Linked DNA regions of Homo sapiens. The protein of the gene in region 2 interacts with the protein of the main gene of each other region in a biochemical or structural test. Each region holds a gene or a part of one and is shown on either strand. Other genes may lie near its edges. The genes, in order: LATS1 and CDC26.

Region 1 (3,827 bases), on a different chromosome or scaffold from region 2:
AATATATATGAAAGAAGTGCTTTACCTGTTCGTAGCAACACTTCAGGTGCAATATAATTGGGAGTCCCAACCAAAGAATGTGCTAGACATCGCTGGTGCTGGCGTGCAGCTCTCCGCTCTAATGGCTTCAGTCTGTCTCCACATCGACAGCTTGAGGGATCCCCCCATTCATTACTGAAATCCATGCTATCTTGCCGTGGATGGTCACCTGCACAACAAAAGAATAAGTAAATAAAGTCAACAATGACAACAGTAAACCTGAAGTCTATTTAATCTTCTGACATCGTGGTTTAGGGTTAACAACATTCTCCCTTGTGACAAACTAAGACACAATGTATGCCAAATCACTGATGGTGTTTATTACCAATTAGAGCCTATTTTCTGAGATGTCAATAGGAAGGATTTTACACTTAAAAAAAATTAGCCTAAGATTTAGTAATTTATGCAATGTTAAATAACAACAATATGAGTCATGGGGAGATTAAGAGTTTGTTATTTAGCCCACTCCCTGTTACTACTCTGGACAAACTTTCAAACAAATTAGATCCATCTTTCATTCAATAAATGACAGTGATAATAAGACAAAGCTCTGGTTACATTCTAGTAGGAAAAGAAACAAAACAATTACACATATAAGGAACAGTGACATACCCTACACAGAGAATCAACACAGGGTGATGTAACAAATGTGACTGGATAGCTACATAAGACTGAATGGCTAGGGAAGACCAGTTAAGAAGGTGACTTCAGCTAAACCGTAAAAAAACAAGAAGGACTCAACCATTTATAAATCAGGATTAGGTATTCCACACAGAAATAACAGCAACAGAGAGAAGACCAGCACAGCTGATAAAGGGGAGAACTGTAGGAAATGGGGCAAGAACTGTAAGAAATGCGGCAGGAATACATGTGGGTTTTGCAAGCAATAGAAATGGTCTGCCTTTTACCTCAAGTAAAGTGAGAAGATATTGCAGAGTTCGAAGCAAGAAGATAACAGTATCTGATTTATGCTTAAAAAAAAAAGTTCTTTATGGGTCATGTGAAGTTTGAAAGGCCTATTTGAAATCCATGTGAAGATAGCCAGGAAGCAGCTGGATAGAGAAATTACGAATTTCAGAGAAAGGCCATTTCTGGAGAGAGAGATTTGGAATTCATTGACATATAGATGGCATGAAGTCACCTAGAATATAAGAAATTAACCTAACTGTAATATTTATCTGGGATGTTTGATTAAAATATGATTTCCCTTTGGGAGGCCAGGGAGGGTGGATCATGAGGTCAAGAGATTGAGACCATCCTGGCCAACATGGTGAAACCCCATCTCTACTAAAAATACAAAAATTAGCTGGGTGTGGTGGAGCACACTTGTAATTCCAGCTACTTGGGAGGCTGAAGCAGGAGAATCGCTTGAGCCCAGGAGATGGAGGTTGCAGTGGGCCGAGATCGCGCCACTGCACTCCAGCCTGGCAACAGACCAAAACTCCGTCTCAAAAAAAAAAAAACAAACAGGCTGGGCGTGGTCGCTCACGCCTGTAATCCCAGCCACTTTGGGAGGCAGAGGCAGGCAAATCATGAGGTCAGAAGATTGAGACCGTCCTGGCTAACACGGTGAAACCTGGTCTCTACTAAAAATCCAAAAAAAAAAAAAAAAAAAAAAAAAAAAAAATAGCCGGGCGTGGTTGCCGGCGGCTGTAGTCCCAACTACTCGGGAAGCTGAGGCAAGAGAATGGCGTGAACCTGGGAGGCAGAGCTAGCAGTGAGCCGAGATTGCGCCACTGCACTCCAGCCTGGGCAACAGAGCGAGACTCCGTCTCAAAAACAAACAAACAAACAAACAAAAAACAACAAAAAGATTTCTATGCCCCAGTGAAGATTTTTGATCAAAAGATGGGAATAGAGCCTAGGAATCATATTTTTAAGAAGCTTTCCAGGTAATAATTCAGTCGAATCTGGGAAGACACTAAATTCCACTATGTCGAACATTAAAGTAGGTTCAATTGTCTCAGTTCTACCCATTTTAATGTCAATCTACTTGTGTTCACAGAAGCACAGGAGGCTAATAATACTTACCTCAGAGAATTGTTGCGAGCATATTAGAATATATGGTTAAGCACCTAGTACATAGTATTTAACAAATGTTAGATTGACTTACACTTCCATTAGCGCTTGGAGGGATCTTGGTGAGGCAGTGTGGTGTAGTAGAAATAACATGGGCCCTGAAATCAGACAAACCTGGGTTCAAAGCCTAGCCCTTACACTTGATTTCTGTCTGACCTTGGGCAAGTTACTTCATCTAACTAGGTCTCAGTTTCTTCATCCTGCCTCACAGTGACATTGTGAGGATAAAATAGGATCAAGGATCATAAAGTGTTTAGGGTTATATAAGTTGTGTAACAGTCATGTAATGAAATCCTAAATAGTAGTGAAAATAAATGTTACAAGCAATAACATGGAGGAACCTCAAACAAGTCAACACAAAGAATATATATAGATTATATTTAAATAAAGGTTAAAGAGTAGGCAAAATGAAATAATATATTATTTAAAGATATACACATTTGTGATAAAAGGATCGATAAAAGTAAAGAACCGATTATAAAGTTCTGAAATAATAATTATCTTTGTGGAGGAGAAAAGGGGAAGTGATTGTTTAAGGGCTTCTAAAGTACTGATAATCTAGTTCTTTAACTGAATGTTGGATATGAGGATTCATTAAAAAATTATTTTAAAAATGTTTTTGGCCAGGCGCAGGGGGCTCACACCTATAATCTCAGCACTTTGGGTGGCTGAGACAGGTGGATCACCTGAGGTCAGGAGTTCGAGATCAGCCTGGCCAACATGGTGAAACCCCATCTCTATTAAAAATACAAAAATTAGCCGGGCGTACTGGCAGGTGCTTATAATCCCAGCTACTCGGGAGGCTGAGGCAGGAGAATCACTTGAACCCAGGAGGGGGATATTGCAGTGAGCCAAGATGGTGCCACTGCACTCCAGCCTGGGCGACAGAGCGAGACTCCATCAAAAAAAAAAAAAAAAAAAAATTGTTTGTCTGGCATATTTTCAAATAAAATGTAAAAGGTGTGACTCAAAAATGTTAATAATATTTAGAAACAATCAAGTCTAGCACATTCTTTCATTTCATAAGTCTAAACAATCAAGTCTAGCACATTCTTTCATTTCATAAGTCTAAGTGCCTAATGGAGTCACCCAAGTTTATCCAACAGAATCAAGACCTGACCCACATCTTCTGGCTCTCATCCAGTGATGATACCATCTTATATTTTACTACATCAATAAATTACATTATTATGAACAAACTAAAATAAATTTTATGAGTTTACTTACCACTCTGATAGTACTTAGAATCGTGTGTCCATCTGAAGCCAGTGCAGAGGCCAAAGTCAGTCAATTTAATATGACCATCACGATCAATCAAAATATTATCAGGTTTAATATCTCTATGAATAAAACCCATTTTATGAACACTTTCAACTGCACAGGTAAGTTCTGCTATGTAGAATCGTGCCAGACTTTCTGGAAAGATGCCCATTCTAATTAATAGGCTCATCATATCACCCCCAGGAATGTAGTCCATTACAAAGTATAAATTGTCCTTATCTTGGAATGAATAATATAGACGAACTACCCATTCATTGTCAGCTTCAGCCAGGATATCTCTCTCAGCCTTAACATGAGCGACTTGATTTCGAAGAAGAACATCTTTCTTTCGAAGAGTTTTTGTTGCATACAAAGCCTTAGTATCTACTTTTCTTGCTAGACAGACTTCACCAAATGCTCCTATTCCTAGTGTCTTTATCTTCACAAAC
Region 2 (3,367 bases):
TAAAATAAGGTATTGCCTTTTATGTGGCAAATGACCTTCCTGATTACTAGTAAGTGATGTTAGAAAGTTCTACCTAAATACCTTTGTGAAAACAAGTTCGAAAAGGCAAACAACTCTATCATTCTGAGAATATCCAAATGGAATGAAATCACTTAAAAGGCTTCCCACTTTGAGCAACTGCTGTTTCAGAAGCTAGAGTCACAGTAGTATAATCAAACTCATGTTGGTAATAAATGAAACAGGCCAGTTTTCTACTGGTTTCACTTTAGGGCATGACTGTCCCTGCTTCCTAAGTTACTCTAAAACAAGGTAAAACCCACTAGATAACTGTCTTTAGTGGAAAGACTAACTCAATAGTGAGCTGACTGTAGAGTCAAAGTTCAGCATGCTAGCATTTTATGAGATTCGTTACAACTGAAGTTTAAGCCATACTTTAAAGCTCATGCTTAATAATATATGAGTTTTTAGAAAGCAAAAATTACGATACTTAGAGAACACTAAAGTCTCTTGGGATGAAGCAGGGGGAAAGAAATCTAAGTTATTAGTCTTAATATGAAGCATATACAATACATAATAAAGCTGTTGGTGAATATATGCAAAACGTACTGTCCTCTGCCATATAGTACAAGATACCTACTAGGACAGCAAATGAAAATAGACTTGCATTGAGCCCTCCTTTGGACCTGGTATTGCAGGGAACAGATGCAGAGAGAAATATACTAATCCCTGACTTCAAGGAGCTTATGGCCCAGTGAGGGAAAACAAAAGCAAACAGACAATTACAACAGAGAGTGACCGTGCCTATGAGAGAGGTTAGCACAGGAGGATAAGGTTGAGCCTAACCCAGCTGGGGGCTGGAAGGAGTAAGAGTTAGCCTGGCAAAGAAAAAGAAAGGGCTTTTCTGGCAAAGGGAACACTGTGTATAGGCACTGAGATTAAAGATAACCCAGCAGTGAAAGTGGAGAGATAAGCAAGGACCAGCTCACAAGGAGCTCATATGCCATGCTAGGGAATTTGGAATTTATTCTGTAGACCACTGAAGAATTTAAGTCTTATTAATGGACATCTAATACCATGTAGCAAGGCCACAGTTAAAAATACATATGGGGCCCCTACTATGAACTAGATGGTAAGAACTCAATGGTGAAGCAAACAGACATGATTTCTGCAATCAACGTCCCTAATGTAAATGATTTTACAATAAAAAAAATTGTAAATTATAATAAATGCTATGAAAAAAATATGGTGCTTTGTGAGAGCCTACAGAGATGGAGGCAGCATGGACGGGAATGACACATGAAACTTGGATACGGTCAAAAGTGGCCTCTTAAATTGAAGAGTTGACATTTGAATGAAGACTGGAAGAAAGGGAGCACTCCAGGCAGGGGGAAATAATATGTGGAAAGTCCATGGAAGTGATAAATAGATTGGCATGTTCAAGGAAATGAAAGAGAGCCAATGTGGCTAGGGTATAGAGAGCAAGGCAAAGAATGGCACAAAATGAATCTGGAGAGGCACTAGAACATACAAAATCTTGTAGGCCATGGTGAAGAATTCAGATTTTGTTATAAGTGCAGAAAACTACTGAGGAGTTTTAAACGGGAATGACAGGATTTGAAAATTTCTGAAGATCATTCTTGATACTGGATGCAGAATGCACTGAAAGAGACAAAAATGGAAGTAGAAGACCAGTTAGGATGCCACTACAATTATACAGGGAAAGACGGTTACTTAGCGCAGGACTGTAACAGTGGAGATGAAAAGGTATGGGTGGATTCCAGACATATTCTGAAGGTAGAATCAAAGGGTCTACAGACAGATCGAATATAAAGCGTAAGAGAAAGGGAGGACTCAGGAATGACTGCTAGGTTTCTGGCCTGAGGAACTGAATCAATACTGAGATGGGAAACACTGGGGAAGAATGGAAGGGACGACTGGTTCAAGGGAGAAATCAAGAGTTTTTCTCTCTTCTTTTTTTAACATGTTAAGTGTAGTAGGCTGAAAAATGGCCCCCAAAGCTAGCAGGTCCTAATCCTGGAACCTATAAATGCCTTATATGGGAAAAGGGCCTTTGCAGGTGTGACTAAATTAAGGATCTTGAGAAGGGGGGATTATCCTGGGTTAGTCAGGTGGGCCCTAAACACAATCACACATATCATAAGAAGGAGGCAGAGGAAGTTTTCACAGACAGAAAAGAAGACAATATGACTCTGGAGGCAGAGACTGGAGTGATACAGTCATGAGTCAAGGAATGCCAGCAGCCACCAGAAGCTAGAAGAGCCAAGGAATGGATTCTTCCCTAGATCCTCCATAGGGAATGTGGCCCTCCTGACACCTAAATTTCAGCCCAGCAATACTAATTTTTGGCCTATAAAACTGTGAAATAATAAATTTCTGTTGTCTTAAGCGATGAAGTTTGTGGTACTTTGTTACAGCAGCCACAGGAGACATACATGAAGTTTGAGATGCCTGTAAAGCATCCAAACAGAGATTTCAAATAAGCTGTTGGCTTAAGAGTCTGCAGTTCAGAAGTTAAAGTTATTGTGTATGTATGTGTGTGTATATACATATTTATGTATGACAGAGAGTCTCACTGTTGCCCAGTGTGGAGTACAGTGGAGCCATCATAGCACACTGTAACCTCAAACTCCTGGGCTCAAGCAATCCTCCCGCCTCCGCCTCCTGAGTAGCTCAGGCATGCGCCACCCTGCCCAACATAGAGACAAGGTCTCACTATGTTGCCCAGGCTGGTCTCAAACTCCTGGCCAGAAAATGCTGGCATTACAGATGTAAGCCACTGTGCCCACACAAGAATTATTATCTTAAATATTCCTTAAGCTTTGAAAGTTGTATTCATGGCTGGGTGCAGTGGCTCACGCGTGTAATCCCAGCACTTTGGGAGGCTGAGGTGGATGGATCACTTGAGGTCAGGAGTTGAGACTAGCCTGGCCCCAACATGGCAAAACCCCAACTCTACTAAAAATAAAAAAATGAGCTGGGCGTGCTGGCATGAACCTGTGGTCCCAGCACGCGGGAGGCTGAGGCAGAGGAGGCAGAGGTTGCAGTGGGCCAAGATCATGCCACTGTACTCCAGCCTGTGTGACAGAGCGAGACTCCATCTCAAAAAAACACAAAGTTGTATTCATACCTCCAGGTCCTTTCGAATGTTCTCAAACTCTTCAATGTCATCAAGCTTTAGCTCTAGGCGTGTTGGTTTCCGTCTCAGCATACTGAAGTCAACACTAAGGGCCAAACCCAGTGAACTATTAGCTGTTAAAAATGAAAGAGAGGAGGAAAATCTGAAGGTGATAAAGTCTCAGATACAAAACATAAAATCAATTTGCAAGCATGTATACTAAAGTGAATG

What was found.
Region 1: of the proteins of CDC26 (region 2) and LATS1, one has a biochemical effect on the other in vitro, tested with the Homo sapiens proteins (one study listed by BioGRID).

Annotation. Positions count from the first base shown.
Region 1 is NC_000006.12:149,676,530-149,680,356, forward strand, and holds part of LATS1 (serine/threonine-protein kinase LATS1), read right to left. Parts: coding exon 3,346-3,827; coding exon of another isoform or gene 3,338-3,345; intron 2,217-3,337; coding exon of another isoform or gene 2,153-2,216; intron 209-2,152; coding exon 26-208; intron 1-25. UniProt on the Homo sapiens protein: Negative regulator of YAP1 in the Hippo signaling pathway that plays a pivotal role in organ size control and tumor suppression by restricting proliferation and promoting apoptosis.
Region 2 is NC_000009.12:113,269,279-113,272,645, forward strand, and holds part of CDC26 (anaphase-promoting complex subunit CDC26), read right to left. Parts: intron 3,271-3,367; 5' UTR 3,230-3,270; coding exon 3,149-3,229; intron 1-3,148. UniProt on the Homo sapiens protein: Component of the anaphase promoting complex/cyclosome (APC/C), a cell cycle-regulated E3 ubiquitin ligase that controls progression through mitosis and the G1 phase of the cell cycle.